5 linked regions of the Homo sapiens genome follow. The protein of the gene in region 2 purifies or fractionates together with the protein of the main gene of each other region. This does not show direct contact. Each region holds a gene or a part of one and is shown on either strand. Other genes may lie near its edges.

Evidence for each region.
Region 1: the proteins of SLC8A3 (region 2) and MAP7D3 purify together in Homo sapiens (affinity purification with mass spectrometry; one large-scale study listed by BioGRID and IntAct). This does not show direct contact.
Region 3: the proteins of SLC8A3 (region 2) and CS purify together in Homo sapiens (affinity purification with mass spectrometry; one large-scale study listed by BioGRID and IntAct). This does not show direct contact.
Region 4: the proteins of SLC8A3 (region 2) and GOT2 purify together in Homo sapiens (affinity purification with mass spectrometry; one large-scale study listed by BioGRID and IntAct). This does not show direct contact.
Region 5: the proteins of SLC8A3 (region 2) and CA2 purify together in Homo sapiens (affinity purification with mass spectrometry; one large-scale study listed by BioGRID and IntAct). This does not show direct contact.

The regions. Positions count from the first base shown.
Region 1 is NC_000023.11:136,223,894-136,227,412, forward strand, and holds part of MAP7D3 (MAP7 domain-containing protein 3), read right to left. Parts: coding exon 3,391-3,519; intron 2,121-3,390; coding exon 2,016-2,120; intron 988-2,015; coding exon 934-987; intron 1-933. UniProt on the Homo sapiens protein: Promotes the assembly and stability of microtubules.
Region 2 is NC_000014.9:70,178,950-70,182,468, forward strand, and holds part of SLC8A3 (sodium/calcium exchanger 3 isoform D precursor), read right to left. Parts: intron 1-3,519. UniProt on the Homo sapiens protein: Mediates the electrogenic exchange of Ca(2+) against Na(+) ions across the cell membrane, and thereby contributes to the regulation of cytoplasmic Ca(2+) levels and Ca(2+)-dependent cellular processes.
Region 3 is NC_000012.12:56,283,328-56,286,846, reverse strand, and holds part of CS (citrate synthase, mitochondrial precursor), read left to right. Parts: intron 1-201; coding exon 202-252; intron 253-823; coding exon 824-931; intron 932-2,989; coding exon 2,990-3,055; intron 3,056-3,519. UniProt on the Homo sapiens protein: Key enzyme of the Krebs tricarboxylic acid cycle which catalyzes the synthesis of citrate from acetyl coenzyme A and oxaloacetate.
Region 4 is NC_000016.10:58,710,305-58,713,823, reverse strand, and holds part of GOT2 (aspartate aminotransferase, mitochondrial isoform 1 precursor), read left to right. Parts: intron 1-3,519. UniProt on the Homo sapiens protein: Catalyzes the irreversible transamination of the L-tryptophan metabolite L-kynurenine to form kynurenic acid (KA). As a member of the malate-aspartate shuttle, it has a key role in the intracellular NAD(H) redox balance.
Region 5 is NC_000008.11:85,466,998-85,470,516, reverse strand, and holds part of CA2 (carbonic anhydrase 2), read right to left. Parts: intron 1-3,519. UniProt on the Homo sapiens protein: Catalyzes the reversible hydration of carbon dioxide. Can also hydrate cyanamide to urea. Stimulates the chloride-bicarbonate exchange activity of SLC26A6. Essential for bone resorption and osteoclast differentiation.

The sequences.
Region 1 (3,519 bases), on a different chromosome or scaffold from region 2:
AATAAAAAATTAGCCAGGTGTGGTGGCATGCACCTGTAGTCTCAGCTACTTGGAAGGGTGAGATGGGTGGATTGCTTGAGCTTGGGAGGTGGAGGCTGCAGTGAGCCATGATTGCGCCACTGTGTTCCTGCCTGGGTGACAGAGCAAGACTCTTATCTCAAAAAAAAAAAAAAAAAAAAAAAAAGCTTCTATCCAGAAGAAGACAACATTAAGAAAAGATAAACTGGCTGGGCATGGTGGCTCACACCTGTAATCCTAGCACTTTGGGAGGCTAAGGCAGGTGGATAACCTAAGGTCAGGATTTCGAGACCAGTCTGGCCAACATGTTGAAACCCTGTCTCTAATAGTAATACAAAAATAGCTAGGCATGGTGGTGCATGCCTGTAATCCCAGTTACTCAGGAGGCTGAGGCAGGAGAATCACTTGAACCCAGGAGGTGGAGGTTGCAGTGAGCCGAGATCACACCACTACACTCTGGCCTGGGTGACAGAGCGGGACTCTGTCTCAAAAAAAAAAAGAGAGAAATGATCAGCGTTTGAGGTGATGGATTTGCTAATTATCCTGATTTGATCATTACACATTGTATACAAAAAAAAAAAAGAAAAAAAGAAAAAGAAAAGATAAGCTGTAAACTGGGAGAAGGTATCTGCAACACATAACCAAAAAAGAAGCAGTATCTATAACATTTAAAGAACCACAATGAGACAAATCAACCCAAAAGTCTTGGGCAAAAGATAAAAAAAAACATTTCACACAAAAGAAATATGAGAGCTAACTAAAGATATGAAAACATGGTCAACCTTGTTGATAATCAGGGAAATGCAAATGTAATACTTTATTTCATTACCACCAGATTGGGTAAAGTGAAAAACTCGGCAATAATGTGAAACAAGAGGCATTCTTATACACTGCTGGTAGGAGTATGGAGACTACCTTTGAGGCATTCACATCTGTCTTTCTTGTCCGCTTCATAATTTCTTCTATTCTCTATTTAAAGGAAAATAAAAATTCAAACATGAAAACAGATTAGAAACCAAACAGTTGTCCTAAAGGAGTTGATTATCCCCATTTCACAGAGGTGCACAATGGCAGTGATTGCTCCAAAACCACAAATATTACCAACAAAAGGCTTACGGTGGCAGTTGAGTCCCCTATCCCAATCCCAGTTTCAGCTATAAAATGCCCTGAATGATGACCGCTGTATTTGTTATAACACAAACATTCAAATGACAACATCTCACTCCTAATTTTGCATATGCAGAAATTCATTAGACTAAGCATATATTATTGCGAACCAATTAGAGCTTTTAACATAATTTTAGTCTTTAGTCTTCAGCTGATTCCTGAAGCCAATGTTAATGAAAATAATACACCTCAATGATGCCACACTGTTTTGTGTTAATGAAGAGAGAAGATAGGAGGTGGAGGAGAAATATATTTCTAGGGAAGGACAGGAATTCTCTCTCCTGTGCACACTTCTTTCCCTGCAGTGAGGAGAGTTGCAGCTCCCTGGCCCCCTCAAGGTGACCAATCTACTACCAGATAGGCCTTGCAGCAACTCAGCCTGGACCAGGGCTGCAGATGAGCTCACATGTGGCCCTACCTTAAAAATAGCCTGCACCTTGGCCTCTCAAAGAGGCCTACAGTTTGTGCTTCTCCCCATGTAGTTGCTGCAATTTCCAGCCAGTTTAGAAGAAAGTCTTAACTTCTACCAACCCCTACCATGACTGGAGTCCTTCTGCTCAGAGAAGTTTTGTTACCAGAGGTTTGATATAGTGAGGCATCACTGTAATGGCCAATGGCCACCAAGGGTCCATGAGAGGGAGGCATGATCAGTAAGAGGACAGCCCTCTATGTAGGAGAAGTCAGATCCTTGGATAAGGAAGAGAATCGAGTGGGAAAACCACCAGGAACTAGCATATATCAGATTTGTGATTTTTAAAAACATGCTGATATCAGGTGCCCAACATTGTTTTAAACACAGAATCAAGTCCCCCCAAACAGAGAGCGAGTACCTTTTTCCTTTCTAACCGTTCTTGTAAATTTTGTAACATAATTCTCTCGTGTTCTTTCTTGCGTTTGTCAGCTTCCTCTTGAGCTTTTATTTTGGCGTCCCCTTTCTAGGAAATTTGCATAAAAATATCATTCAATCTCAAGATACCTGAGTGACATCAGAGAACTCTAGTTTAAAAATTTCAATGGTAAATGTTATCTAGTATAACAAAAGAGTGTAACCTTTTGAATGAGGGTTCCTATATCATGATATTTGCGGATTGTCAATTTTCAAAGCACTAGTTAGAATGCACAAAGCTAGGCTAAATGTTATCCTGAGGATTCAGGACCACAGGGTCATTGTTATGAACATCACACCATCCTAATTCAAAGTATGTGACTGTGGAGCTATCCATTAACACAGTAACAGGAGCCAACAGCCTGACATTTCTCAAAAGCACTGAGAGGATTCTTGAAGGCACCCTCCTGAGAAATGCAAGCATAAACAATCATATATAAAACATATGACCAATGCTGGTGAATAATACACTAAAAACTGGAAATATAAATTGGGCTATGGTAATAATTCAAACTGAGTATAGTCTGAGCTCAGTTTGGGCATTTATTTACCCAGTGACTTGACTTTAGATAGATGAGACATTCTTCAGTTAATGATTTTAAACTTGTAGAAGTATGTATGGTTTATCTTATCTGTTACAGGGGTGTAAGGTCCAGTTGATGGAGTTGTATATGGTACCACAGAATGCAAGATGGGGGAAACCAATGTAGGATGTGGAATCTGTTAAAGCAATTTGGATTTCAAATTAAGGACTACTAATCTACAATTTGCTGTTTTCTGCTTATTTCACTAGGAAAACATTCTATGGTTTTCTGAGGGTGGCTGACAATGACCTGCAGTGGTACTGGGTAATAGAGACTGTAACATAAAAATGCAGCCAGAGGTTGGGCGCAGTGGCTTACACCTGTAATCCTAGCACTTTGGGAAGCTGAGGCGGGCGGATCACCTGAGGTCAGGAGTTCAAGACCAGCCTGGCCAACATGGTAAAACCCCATCTCTACCAAAAATACAAAACTGAGCTGAGCGTGGTGTCAGATGCCTGTAATCCCAGCTACTTGGGAGGCTGAGGCAGGAGAATGGCTTGAACCTGGGAGGCAGAGGTTGCAGTGAGCCAAGATTGTGCCATTGCACTCCAGCCTGGCTGAGAAGAGTGAAACTCCATCTCAAAATTAATAAATAAATAAATAAAATAAAAAATAAAATGCAGCCAGAGAATCTGCTCATGTCTTCTTTCTCAGAGACAGAGATTTTTGCTCTGGGTTCCATCTGAACTTTATAATCTGGTTCTCATCCCCTGATAAAGTGTCAAGTCAGCAAACCTGCAGTGGTGCTTCCTGGTCTTCCTGATCCAGCCATCCTTTCTTCTTTTTAGTCTCATTTTGTTGCTGCCCATCTTTGAGTTTCAAGTGGTCTTCTGCTTGGCCTCCAACTGCTTCCTTTGCCATGTC
Region 2 (3,519 bases):
CCCCACCCCCTACTGACTTCTCATCTAGCTTCTAACTTGCTGACCTTTCAAATCTCCTACCATTTTGTTTTGCTCCACCCATACTCCACTCCAACTCAGATGAAATACTTTGAAGTTTCTAGAACAGGCAAGCATGTGTCTTAGGACTTTTGCATCTACTGTTCTCTCTACTTGAAACAACCTTACCCTAAATATCCACATAGGTCACTTTTAGATTTCATTCAGGCCTTAGATGCCCCCTCTCTGAGAGGCTTTCCCCCGCCCATCTTATCTAAAGGCAATCTCCCCCTCCAGTACTCTCTTGTAACATCACTTTTCGTTTTCTTTACAGCCCATATTCACTTGATGAAATCATCATTGTTTTTGTTTGCTTTTTTACTAGTTTATCATAGAATATATACTCCATAGTAGCAGGAATCTGGTCCCTTTTGTTCACCACAGTATTCCCAGTGCCTTGGCTAGTGCTGGCAGAGGGAGTACTCAGTAAGTATTTGCTGAGTGGATGCAAAATGACTCTACAGGAGTTTTCATTAAGTGATTCTGGAAAGATGCATCTAGGAAGAGACTTCAAACTTCCTGGCAAGCCTTAGGGTAGAGAGGTATATGGTTAAAGCCAATGACCTCAGAGTTCAGAGAGTTTTGTTCATTCTCAAGAACCAATGGGACCACATAGTGTTTGGACAGAAGTCGTGAGTCTAATTCTAAACACGGCCCCTTCTCCCAGTCTTAGTCCTCTCATTAGCACCTCACTTTTCCTTCAGAGTATGGCATAATGATAATCAGCATTTATACTGCATCATTCATTCAATAAATATTAAACAATGCTATGTGCCAGGGGTTTACAAAGAACTTCTCACTCACAGGATCTTATTTAATCCTTCTTATGAGGATGATCATACAGAAGAAGAAATTGGGGCTCATTTATTGCTGAGTGTTGCTATGCCAATAAATAATGGAGCCAGAACCAAACCTTCGTGCTGTGAATGCCAGAGGTCTCCTTTCAGCAGGCTGAAGGAGTGTGTCATGTCGGGAAGGACCAAGAGGAAGCATCCCCTGCAACTGAAAGGAAGTCAGGGCTGGAGTCAAAGGAGCAAGAATCCCAGGGCAGCCTGAGGCCGACATCGTTCCTGCCCTTCCCTGTTGCCAAGAGAGAACCACCTGGGCTCTATCTTCTGAGGTTACCCATGGGGGAGGCTGACATCCTTCTGCCCTGTTGCAAAGCCATCAAGGGATGCTGGTGATCAGCCTCCTTTATGTACATATTTCTCAGGCTATTCTCCAGAAGCCAGATGTATTTTAATGCCATTTAATTTATTTTAATTTTTTAAATGTTGAAATATGGAATTAAATCATATCATTGCCTGATTGAAGAACAAATAAAACCTGGCGAGCAGTCAAAGTCATCTCTCTGAGACAAGTCTGGGTAGTTCTTTTGTATAATTAACTCTAGGGATGCTCTGGGTCCTCCTATTACAAGGGGGTGCTAGGAGCAGATTCCTCAGACTCCCAGCAGATCTAGCTACTACCTTCACAGATGTGCTCTTCCATAATGATTTCCCCTTGAGGTTGATTCCTCTATTAGTTTCTTTTCAGGGGCTAAAAGGCATTGGCTCAAGAGGATTCTTCCTGTCTCACTGGGGAGAGAGTACAGTGGTATGTTTGGGGTAGGTGGAGCATCTAGAAAGCCACTGAGCAGAGTGGTTTTACTAGACTCTCAACAGAATCTACATGGCTCTAAACACATCTTTTCTGGGGGCTCTATGAAAGGCAGAAGTGCAGGAGTTGAGATAGGATGTCTGGAACATTTGGGAGCCTAGAGCACTACTAGTCATTCTGCGAATGCCCTAGAATACTGCAGTGGGAGCTGACTGGTGGCTGCACATTGAGGAGTGCCAACCTGGGGCCCTTGAGGCACTCTAACCAGTTTAGGGCACCTTACTGGCTGGACAGCTGAGTTGACTGGCCAAGTTGATCTCTAGAGACTCAATGTGATAACAGATACACTAGAGGCTTCAAGTTACAGCTGGAAGGTCCTGAAATGAAAGATACAGTCAGCACTAAAAGTATTCTTAGCAGGAGACAATCTGTATGCTATGAAACAAGACTCACAGAATACAGAATTGTCAGGTCAGGGAGGAGCATAAAAGTCAACACATCCAACACAAACTCTTTTGATGGATAAGGAATCCAAGGCCCAGAGAACAGAGGTGAGTCTTACCTGTGGTTGTCAGAAGTGATAAGAATTAGAACATAACCTTTTATCACCAATTCATTGCCTCCTCTATGACACCATTTTCCTGTCCCTGGTTTGAATTTTGACTCCACCACTGTCTTATTTTAGGAAATAGTATAGATCCCCTTTCTTGACCTTGTTTCACCTGCTTCATGGGTGAGGGAGTATATTCATTTATTCACTCCATTTTTTCATTGAACACCTACTGTATTTCAGGCATCATGTGACATAGAGTGGGAGACAGAAAAAGCACTTGCTCCAGGAGGGATGGTAAGCCACACGCAAAAAAAAAAAAAAAAGTGCATTTCAGAAAGTGTAAAGGGCTAATGAAAAACAGATGTCACATTATTAAAATTCACAGGAGGAAGGGACAGCTTCTCCATAAAGCCTTCCCATCAGGCAGAGGCATTTGAATTGAACACTGAAGAACAAGGACAAGTCTTAGGGGAAGGTAAACTGTGAACAAATGCACAAAAGCAGAAAGGGCAAGGAAACTGTAAAAAGTGAGGCTAGATATGGAGTGGGGCACCAGCTCATACAGGGCCTTGAATACAAGGAACTGCAAAAAATGGAATGCCCTTCAAAGTTTTTTGTGCAGAAAAATGATAAGTTTACAAGGGCATTTTAGGAGGTGAATCTTGTAACTGATGAAAATGAATTGAAAGAGGAAAAGGTTGAAGTTGGGAAGATGGCAGAAAGCTGTTTTTTACAGTATAATAATAGTAAGTACTTCGTACAGTCATGGTAAGGATTAAATGGGAAAATCAACGTAAAGCACTTTGCAACAGAGTAGCTGACAGATGGTAAACACACACACATTATTATTATTTTTATACAAGAGGTGATAAAATCTGCACTTGGGTAGTGGTGTTTGGGATGAAGAAGAGGGGCATGGGCTTATAAAATACATCAAGCAATACTTGGGGAACAAGGGAGAGGAGTTCAAATATAAACTTGGAGGTTTCGAGCCAGGGTGACTGGAAGTTTGTTGGTGCCATCAAGAGAAAGTGGGAAGTCAGGAGGAGAAGCTCCTAAGGACAAAGATGATGTCAGGTTAGTAAAAATTCAGGAGGAGTTAACAGGACATCTTGTTGGAGATACTGTGCACACGGCTGGAAACAAGACACCCAGCTTGGAGAGCTAGAGTCACAGACTCTGGGAACTATCCACACTGCAGTAACAGCACAAACCATTCAGGGAGACTGCCAAGGGATAATGGAGAAAGGAAAAATTGGGAGAGAGGAGAGAATCTTGGAGTGGAAGTGGAAGAGGGGCCATGTAGAGGT
Region 3 (3,519 bases), on a different chromosome or scaffold from region 2:
AAAAAAAGCAGTTAAACCTCCTGCTGTCTCCATAGTGGTAACTCCTTCCAAACTGTTTGGGGACTTTTACAGCTTTCTTATGTCAAACTGCCCTAAGAGACTGAGATGAAGAGAGAGAGGTTGAGTCACTGTAATTCCTTCTTGTTAATATAAAAGAGGGAGGGGTAACAGTTACATAAGGTTCTCTTTTTTGCTTTGCAGAATGCATCTTGTCTTGTTCTTGCAGCCCGGCATGCCAGTGCTTCCTCCACGGTAAGGTTTGGAAAAGAAGACTAAGAATAAGAATCATTGCGGCCAGCCTGACCTTGGGGCAGAGGATTTGGCAACCACCTGGCCTCTTATTATCCTGAGTATTTCCTGGAAGTGTTTGTTACTATTGTTATTGTTATAGCTGCTATTATTATTATATTACTATTTAACAAATAATTTACTCAGTGGTATAGTGAGATGGGAATATCAATACATTTGCCTAATTCTTTTAAATGTTTTAAGTAGTGTAAAATATACATAACATAAAATTTACCATTTTAATCATTTTTAAGTATATGGTTTAGTGGCAGTAGATATGTTTACATTATTGTGCAACCATCCATCTCCAGAACTTTTGTCTGCCCAAACCGAGAAACTGTTCCCATTAAACATTAACTCCTCATTCCTTCTTCCCCCTGCCTAATTCTTTTACCCTCATTTGTGCAGAGTAGTTGACCAGACTTCCCTGGCAGATAAAGCCAGCTTCTAAAAAGCAAATTCTTGACACACCTACTTTGCAGGAAATCTAATAAACTTTTAGACCATTGCTTAGTCCTTCTACTTTTCTTTTTAGAATTTGAAAGACATATTGGCTGACCTGATACCTAAGGAGCAGGCCAGAATTAAGACTTTCAGGCAGCAACATGGCAAGACGGTGGTGGGCCAAATCACTGTGGACATGGTAAGGGTTGTGTGGCTTTGGCTGGGAAAAGTAGCTCTGTAATGTGCTTCAACAAAAGTAACATTCTCTCCACTGACTATTCAAAAGCATTCTGTCCCATAGGCCCTGTAGGACAGCTTTAGGATGACTTTTCCCCATCCTTCAGATTCTGAGCAGCTCAGCTGATAGTTTCTCAACAGTTTTTAGCTTATTGGTCTCCATCCCCTTCTCCTAGACTAGAACTCATTCTGTTTGTTTTGATTGGTTGGAATTTGAGGGTAGGGTATGTTGGGGAGTGGTTGAGTGGGCAGGAGAAAAAAAGTGAAATACAATAAGAAAAGGAATCAAACAGAGGGCGCAATGGCTCATGCCTATTATCCCAACATTTTGGGAGGCTGCAGTTGGAGAATCACTTGAGGCCAGGAGTTAACAACCAGCTTGATCAACAAAGGAAGATACAATCTCTATGAAAGAAAAATTTAAAAAATTAGCCAGAGATGGTGGGATGCCCCTGTAGTCCCAGCTACTGGGGAGGCAAAGGCAGGAGGATTGCTTGAGCCCAGGAGTTCAGGGCTGCAGTGAGCCATGATTATGCCACTGTAGTATAGCCTGGGCAACAGAGGGAGACCCTATCTCCAAAACAAACAAAAAGAAAGATAGTGATTTCTCAACTTAAAAAATTTCATTTCCAGGCCTGTTGCAGTGGCTCATGCCTGTAATCCCAGCACTTTGGGAGGCTGAGGCGGGTGGCTCATCTGAGGTCAGGAGTTCGAGACCAGCCTGGCCAACATGGTAAAACTCCGTCTCTACTAAAAAATATAAAAATTAGCTGGGCATGGTGGCAGGCAACTGTAATCCCAGCTACTCAGGAGCCTGAGGCAGGAGAATCACTTAAACCCAGGAGGCAGAGGTTGCAGTGAGCTGAGATTGCACCATTGCACTCCAGCCTGGGCAAGAGTGAGACTCCATCTGGGGGGAAAAAAAAAAAGATCAGCCTTGGCAACATGGCTGGCAAAACCCTGTTTTTTTTTTTTTTTTTGGGACGGAGTCTCACTGAGTCACCAGGCTGGAGTACAGTGACGTGATCTCGGCTCACTACAACCTCCGCCTCCCGGGTTCAAGCGATTCTTCTGCCTCAGCCTCCTGAGTAGCTGGGATTACAGGCCCGCACCACCACGCCCAGCTGATTTTTGTATTTTTAGTAGAGACAGGGTTTCACCATGTTGGCCAGGATGTCTCGATATCCTGACGTCGTGATCTGCCCGCCTTGGCCTCCCAAAGTGCTGGGATTACAGGCGTGAGCCACTGCACCCGGCCTAAACCCCATTTCTTTAAAAAAAAAAAAAAGAAATACAAAAATTAGCCAGACATGGTGGCACGTGCCTATAATCCCAGCTACTCAGGAGGCTGAAGTGGGTGGATCACCTGAGCCTGCAAGTCAAGGCTGCAGTAAGCCGTGATTGTGCCACTGTGCTGCAGCCTGAGTGACAGACTCTGTGAGAGGCTTAGTGATCTTCCCTCCTCCTCAGCCTCCCAAAGTGCTGGGATTACAGGCATGAGCCCCACCGTACCTGGCCACAAAGTTTGTTTTTTTTTTTCTTTTTTTTTTTTTTTTTTGAGATGGAGTTTTGCTCTTGTCACCCAGGCTGAAGTGCAATGGTGTGATCTTGGCTCACTGCAATCTCTGCCTTCTGGGTTCAAGCGATTCTCCTGCCTCAGCCTCCCAAGTAGCTGGGATTACAGGCACATACACCATGCCCGCTAATTTTTTAATTTTTAGTAGAGACATGGTTTCACCCTGTTGGCCAGGCTGGTCTCAAACTCCTGACCTCAGGTGATCCACCTGCCTCGGCTTCCCAAAGTGCTGGGATTACAGGTGTCAGCCACTGTGCCTGGCCACAAAGTTTAATTCTTTAGTAAGCTGACTCCTCAGACATCTCTCACCAAATGAAGTCTTACAAGTCTGAGAATAAATTTTCTCTCCCAGATCCCATGAAGCTCTAACAAGTTCTAGTCTGAATCATTCTGATTACTGGCCACAGCCTCTTTTTTTTTTCCTTCTTTCTTCATCCTCTTTAGATGTATGGTGGCATGAGAGGCATGAAGGGATTGGTCTATGAAACATCAGTTCTTGATCCTGATGAGGTAAGACATCTTCATGTCAATTACTAATAATCATTGAGTTTGTGCAAATACGCAAACCGTGGATTAGACCAGTAAGGGTAAGCACAAAACAGAGCACCTAGCTTCATATATTGGAAGGTAGAGAAGACATATGTATGGAATAATTGAAGAACAAATTTACCTTTTAAATATATCAACTAGTAAAAATAAAAGTACAAAACCAGAGGTAAGTTATGTGAAGATTTAAGCTTAATTTAAAGTTCTGTTCTGGACTGGGCGCAGTGGCTCACACCTGTAATCCCAGCACTTTGGGAGGCTGAGGCGGGCAGATCATGCGGTCAGGAGGTTGAGACCGTCCTGGCTAACACGGCGAAACCCTGTCTGTACTAAAAACACACAAAATTAGCCGGGCATGGTGGCAGGCACCTGTAGTCCCAGCTACTCGGGAGGCTGAGGCAGGAGAATGGCGTGAACCCAGGAGGCGG
Region 4 (3,519 bases), on a different chromosome or scaffold from region 2:
TAAAATAATTACTGTTTGGCCATTTACAGAAAGAATGCCAACCCCTACTCTATGAGTTCATAAAACCATGATGCCTGTGGAAGGTGTGATTTGTTATATGAGTTTATCGTATATTTGTTATATGAGCTGCTTAGTTGAGAGGTCACATCTCTGAGCAGCTCTTGGGTAGAAAAGCTAAATCTGCTATCTCTAAGAAACTTGATATGTACCTCCCCTAGTCATCATGTGACAACTATTTTTTCTGTCTCTCTGTCCCATGAAGATTAAAGTAAATACTAAGAGTCTGGTTCAGGATAGTTTTTTTTGTTTTTTGTTTTGTTTTGTTTTGTTTTTTCCTTTTGATTTTTTATAAAGACAAGGTCTCACTGTGTTGTCCAGGCCAGTCTCAAACTCCTGGGCTCAAGTCATCCTCCCACCTCAGCCTTCCAAAGTGCTGGGATTACAGCTGTGAGCCACCGCACCCAGCTCAGGGTAGTTCTTTATGGTATAATAGGTTCATGCTAGACCTACCAAAAATTTGAGTACTTTTTAAGTTATATTTTTTTGCAGCATGATATTAACATGTAAGTATATTTCAGAAAGTTTGTGAAAGGGAAAAAATTAACCATAACTCTAGCTATTCTAACTCAGCTTTTTTTTTCCCTTACCCATTGTTTGTTTGTTTTTTCTTTATTTGTTTTTTGTTTGTGTGTGTGGTTTTTTTGTTTTTTGTGTTTTTGTTTTTGAGACAGAGTTTTGCTCTTGTTGCCCAGGCTGGAGTGCAATGGCACAATCTTGGCTCACTGCAACCTCTGCTTCCTGGGTTCAAGTGATTCTTCTGCTTCAGCCTCCCAAGTAGCTGGGATTACAGGCATGTGCTACCACGCCCAGCTAATTTTGTATTTTTAGTAGAGACGGGGTTTCTCCATGTTGGTCAGGCTGGTCTCGAACTCCCGACCTTAGCACTTCGGCCTCCCAAAGTACTGGGATTACAGGCGTGAACCACTGCGCCCAGCCACCCATTGTTATCTGTAGTTGTGACATACTGTTATATATGTATGTGCAGGACTGGTTTTGGTTTTGTCACTTAGAATTATACTAAGCTTTTTTACTTAATATTTTCAATGTTTTTAAAAATATTTTCATATTCTCTGGTTATGAAGATTTTTTTTAATGCATGCATTTCAATACACAATTTGAGAGTCTGTAGTAGACAAAGATGCCAGACTGTGTTAATGACTACCCTCAGGGTGGTTATAATCTGATGAGAAAGATACACACATGACTTTCTTGTTCTTGTTGTTGTTGTTGTTGTTGTTGTTCTTGTTGTTGTTTTGAGAGAATCTTGCTCTGTGGCCCAGGCCGGAGTGCAGTGGCACAATCTCAGCTCACTGCAACCTCCGCCTCCTGGGTTCAAGCGATTCTCCTGCCTCAGGCTCCCCTGAGCTGGGATCACAGGCACCCACCACCATGACTGGCTAATTTCTGTATTTTTAGTAGAGACTGGGTTTCACCACATTGGCCAGGCTGGTCTCAAACTCCTGACCTCAATGGATCCATCCACCTCAGCCTCCCAAAGTGCTAGGATTATAGACGTGAGCCACCGCGCCTGGCCACACATGATATTTAATATAAGACAGAATGGAATAAATGATGACTAAAGGGAGAGCTGTTGATTCTAGTGGGGAGTTAGAGAAGATGTAATGAGGACTGCGGCATGTGAGCTGTGCATTAAAGAGGGGAAAGGGCTTTTTTTTTTGCAAAGGAAATGAAACGGACAAGGAAACTGGGGAGAGATCTGAGTGAGGGCATAGGCGTGGGACGTGCATTATGCAGAACTTGTGTAGAAAGCCCCAAGTTGTTTTCGTGATGAAAACACGAATGTGAGGAGGACTGTGGGAGACAGCCAAGCTGAGAAGGTGGAGCAGATCGTGAAGCACCCTGGTTGATACTGTAAGAAGTCAACACTTGATTCTCCAGGCAACAAGGAGGATGGAGGGGTTTGGCTAAGATGGCTCCACATCTAGCCCTGTTCATGCACTCAATATCTTTGGGATCCAGGCCTCAAAGTGAATGAAGCTGGACGATGGAAACTGTAGGAAATTTAAAATCAGATGCCATAACTGGAGGGGCCAGGGGCTCCTCAGCTCCAGCCAGTAATTATTTTGCTAATACAGTGCTATCGTTTCTCATTTTTCAAGAGAAACTACAGGTTTCAGCTTTTAGGCACAAGTGCCCAATTTAAAAACGTTTCACTGGGTGAAGTAAAACATTACTAGGTCCCATATTTGGTCTTTAATTGGCAGTTTGTGATCTCTCTTCTAACCGTGCATAACATCATTATACAGAGATGGTTTAGGAAAGTGAACACCTAAGAACAGGGAGATAAACTGTAAATGGGAATGTCATTGGTGAGAGCCAAGAATGTCCCAGAGCCATGGGAATGGAGTGGAAAGGGTAGATTCTGAGGAAGGGGAAGGTTGTATTCAGAATCAGGTGATCCCCGTGCACAGTCAGAGGACTACCTTCTCCAGTCCCTCAGACAGAATTTACTCTCCTTGGGGCTTTTAGCATAGCAGTGTCCTATGTGTTTTACATTTTGTGGCCGTATTCCATACTTGGTTTACAGGTTTGGTTACAAGCACCCCTTGCAAGCTTTTGAAGGCAAGGACTATGTCTCAGTCCTCACCACCTAAAATAGCTTGGCTCATTGTAGATTCATAGTACATTGTCTCAATTGTGAAGATGGGAATGTATATTTCATCCATGTCAAAAATAAGGTCATTTTTTTTTTTTGTTTAACCCACAGCTTTTACCTTAATCTTAGTAGGTTTTAGAGTGATTCATTCACTTTTCTTTTTTTTTTTTTTTTTTTTTGAGACAGAGTCTTGCTCTCTCACCCAGGCTGGAGTGCAGTGGCGCCATCTCCGCTCACTGCAAGCTCTGCCTTCTGGGTTCACACCATTCTTCTGCCTCAGCCTCCCCAGCAGCTGAGACTACAGGCACCCGCTGCCACGCCCGGCTAATTTTTTTGTATTTTTATTAGAGACGGGGTTTCACCGTGTTAGCCAGGATGGTCTCGATCTCCTGACCTCGTGATCCGCCCGGCTAATTTTTTTGTATTTTTAGTAGAGACGGGGTTTCACCGTGTTAGCCAGGATGGTCTCGATCTCCTGACCTCGTGATCCGCCCGCCTGGGCCTCCCAAAGTGCTGGGATTACAGGCGTGAGCCACCGTGCCCCGCCCACTTTTCTTAATACAGATGCAATTATGATGGGGTTACATCCCAATAAGCCTGTCATAAGTCAGAAATGCATTTAAGGCCAGGCTTATGTCTGTAATCCTAGCATTTTGGGAGGCCAAGGTGGGAGAATCACTTGAGCCCAGGAGTTCCAGACCAGCCTGGGCAAAATGGGGAGACCCTGTCTCTACAAAAAAAAAAAAAAAAGAAAAGAAAATTAGCAAGGCATGGTGGAATGCACTTGTGGTCCCAGCTACTTGGGAGGCTGAGGCAGGAGGATCACTTGAGCCTGGAAGATT
Region 5 (3,519 bases), on a different chromosome or scaffold from region 2:
ACTGGAGTAACAGACTAAAGACCGTAATGAATGTCAACAGTTTCTCCTAAGTCCAAAATATAAATAAACTAGTCCCAGTAATCTTTAGTTTAAAAATAAAATTTAAATGATTTCCTACTAATAAAGCAAAAGATTAATTCTACAGAAAACATGTCATTTTCGGTACCATCTTTTCTATAAATAACCTGAAAAATTTTAAATCATGCATTACTGTTTTGCCTGTTGGCAGCAGCCAATAATCCTAGGGCTACGTGCCAATATAGACAAATCTGGGGGGAAAAAATACACGTATTCCATTTGTTTTAAAGCAATAAGATGTTTAGCTGTCACTTTCGCTAGAGTAAACACAGTTGAAATTCAACAGAAGTCGTGGTTTAAACTATGTGGCAATTATATAGGAGTAAAAAAAGAAGCTGTTTTGATGTGAATATAGTAACTACAGTGTTTAGAATATGTTGGTCCATTTTCTAGATATTTAAGGTTCGGCTGACACCATTACTGCGTGCATGACAAGCCCTTTCATTTGTTGTTATGCTTTCTTTTAACTTAGGACTGCTGTGAAAGAAAACTTTTAGAGCTTCAAAAGCAAGTCCCTGAAAGTCAAGCAGGATCCATGTATGAAGATCCATTACGTCATACAGACAATGGGTCACTTAAAAAGAGCACAGGTAAACTCATCCAGCTTCCTTTACTCTTTTCTTGAAATAACAAACAGATTTAAAAAATTCCAATTTCTGAAAAACAGAAATGATGTAAGACTTGGATAAGAGTTGGCCCAATAATTCTGGCATTGACTTTCAATATTTGTCCCTAACTTTGCAATAAAGCAGGAGAGTATTAAACTCATTAATAAAAGTTAATAAGTTAGCAGGAGTTAATAATTTGACTACTATTATTTTCTCCCAGATAAGGCCATTAATAAAACATCTCAAGCAGGGTGAGTTATTTTTTAATAAGTTTTTTAAGAACCTAAAGGGATTAGCAATTTTTCATTAACTTAAGGTGAATTTATGGTGGCTTATTTTCAAAGGAATTTAGAAGATTGATGAGAGCTCTAACCCAAGTTTCTAGTTAAATCCTATTAACTCCGTAGTTTAAAAAATTCTCTCAAGCTTAAATCAGCAATAAAGTCAACCCGCTCAGTTCCTGATACCCAAGTTCTTAAGTTTGGATATAAGAGAACATTTAAAGCATATTGGAAAACCTCAATCTATGAGAAGTTCTAGAAGGCTGAAATCTCATTGAGGCAAAGAAGACAGGTAAATGAACTGCATTTAAATGCAGGAAATAAGAGGTATAGGAAATCTAAAAATGTTACCACCACAAAAATAACTCCTAATAAAAAGAGATGTTAAACTGCCGATTTTTTAAAATTAAGTGACTAAAATAAATAACTTTTTGACTTGTGTACAGAAAAAAATGCCAGCTTTTAAAAAACATGGTATGTATAAACTAAATGTCAAATAAGGTTATCCTTCAAATATTTTTATTCAAAATTCTATTTTTAAGTGATTGCTACTTAGTCCCTCCAGCAAACTAGCAAGGAGACGACTTAGCAAGTTATTTAAACTCTTCAGCTTCTGTTTCTTCATGTTTATTAAGGTGAGTTTAACTAGAGTATCTCTATTCTTTGTTTTGGCTTTGAGAGCCTAGGATTGTTTTATTTAAAAAAAAAAAAAAGAAAGAAAGTCTAAAGGGAGTTTTTCCACATGGTTTTGTGTGTGTGTGTGTGTGGTTTTTTGTTTGTTTGTTTGTTTTGAGATGGAGTCTCGTTCTGTCACCAGGCTGGAGTGCAGTGGTGCGGTCTCGGCTCACTGCGACCTCCGCCTCCCGGGATCCAGCGATTCTCCTGCCTCAGTCTCCTGAGTAGCTGGGATTACAGGCACATGCCACAACACCTAGCTCATTTTTTGCATTTTTAGTACAGACAGTGTTTCACCCTGTTGGCCAGGCTGGTCTTGAACTTCTGACCTCAAGTGATCCGCCCACCTCAGTCTTCCAAAGTGCTGGGACTACAGGCGTGAGCCACCGTGCCTGTCCCCCACATGGTATGATTTTTAAAAATTTATTCTGTAGATGTCTTTTCTCTTAATATTGACATTTTAATATATTCTGCATTCTTGTTTAACCAAAGTAACTGAAAATGTGGAAAAGAGAGGCAAAATTACAAAGGAATCTTTCATATGCAAAGGAGGGCAAGTCCTTTCTGACCTTGCTTTTAGTATACCTTCTTGCCTTTCTGGAGCACATGCTGTGCTCTCTTAAGTCTCCTGGTATTTCCTATCTCCCTTTGCCTGGACTCTCGTCCAAGACATCAAAATCCTTCAAGCCTCCACATAAGCCTTATTTACCCTGGAAAGTCTTTCCTGTCTTATCAGTTAAACTGCCAAGCCTCCTTCACGTTTCCATAGTTCCTTGGAGTACTTCCTTTCTGCACTTATCAAAGTGGCAGTCAGGGTCTACTATTTCTATGTCTTTCTACTTTAGATATTTCCAGCATGGGCTCCGGGGAACAGGAGAGGGACCAGGCCTCCACCCTGCTTTCATGATGCTTAGCTTCCCATGCATTTAAGTGGTGTTAATAATGACTTTTTTGTAGAACTAGGTGGATAATACATGTGTCTCTAAAGGCATGGGTGGGAGCTCCTACCGAAACCCTGTGGTTTTCATCTGTTTCACAATCTAAACATGGCCAACTTCTTTAAAAATGTATGCATTGCTCTCCAGAAGAAATAGCTGTGAAAAATGTAGCTAGATCTAATTAGTTACTGCTTATAGAGAAATCTGTCAAAGTTTAACAGATTCATGGTAAAATATGTAACTATATAATAACTTCATACATAAAATAAGTACATATTCAGTATGATAAACAGTATGCTTCAGAAAATATAAAAATAAAAATTTAAAATACATCAAATGATGGGAACTAATCTTAAAGCTGTTAAAGAAAAAGTTTATTCAGAAATCTTATCGCAGGTGCAACATCTACAGCAATGGTCTAACAGAGGTGGTCGAAGGGTTCAAGTTGTGACAACAACAGAGGCCATTTATTGAGCAACTTCTATGCGCCAGGCACTGGGCTAGGGGCTTTACATATACTGTCCCATTTCATCCTTCCACTGTGGCAGACACTATTGTTACTCCAACTTTACAGTTAAAAACAATTAAAACCTAGACAGTATTACTCCCAAAGTCTCTGAGCTAGTTGCCGGCAGCTCTAGAACTCAAATCCAGGTCTCTCTGACCCCAGTCTATGCTGATAGCCACCAGACCATGTGTTCAAATCCACTTTCCAGTAATACATATTACTAGAATAATTTATTTCACTATCCATTTTTTAAGGACTATTAGGAACCTCATCTGCTTTCATTTGTTGGAGATTTGTTTCTTCAGTGCTCCAAAAAAGACTTAAACTATCCAATTTCTATGTAGCATCCAATGAGATACATAATTTGGCAGACATTACATCCATTGAAAACAATGACATCATTGTGGCTCTTTAAAAAAGTACAGCTACAG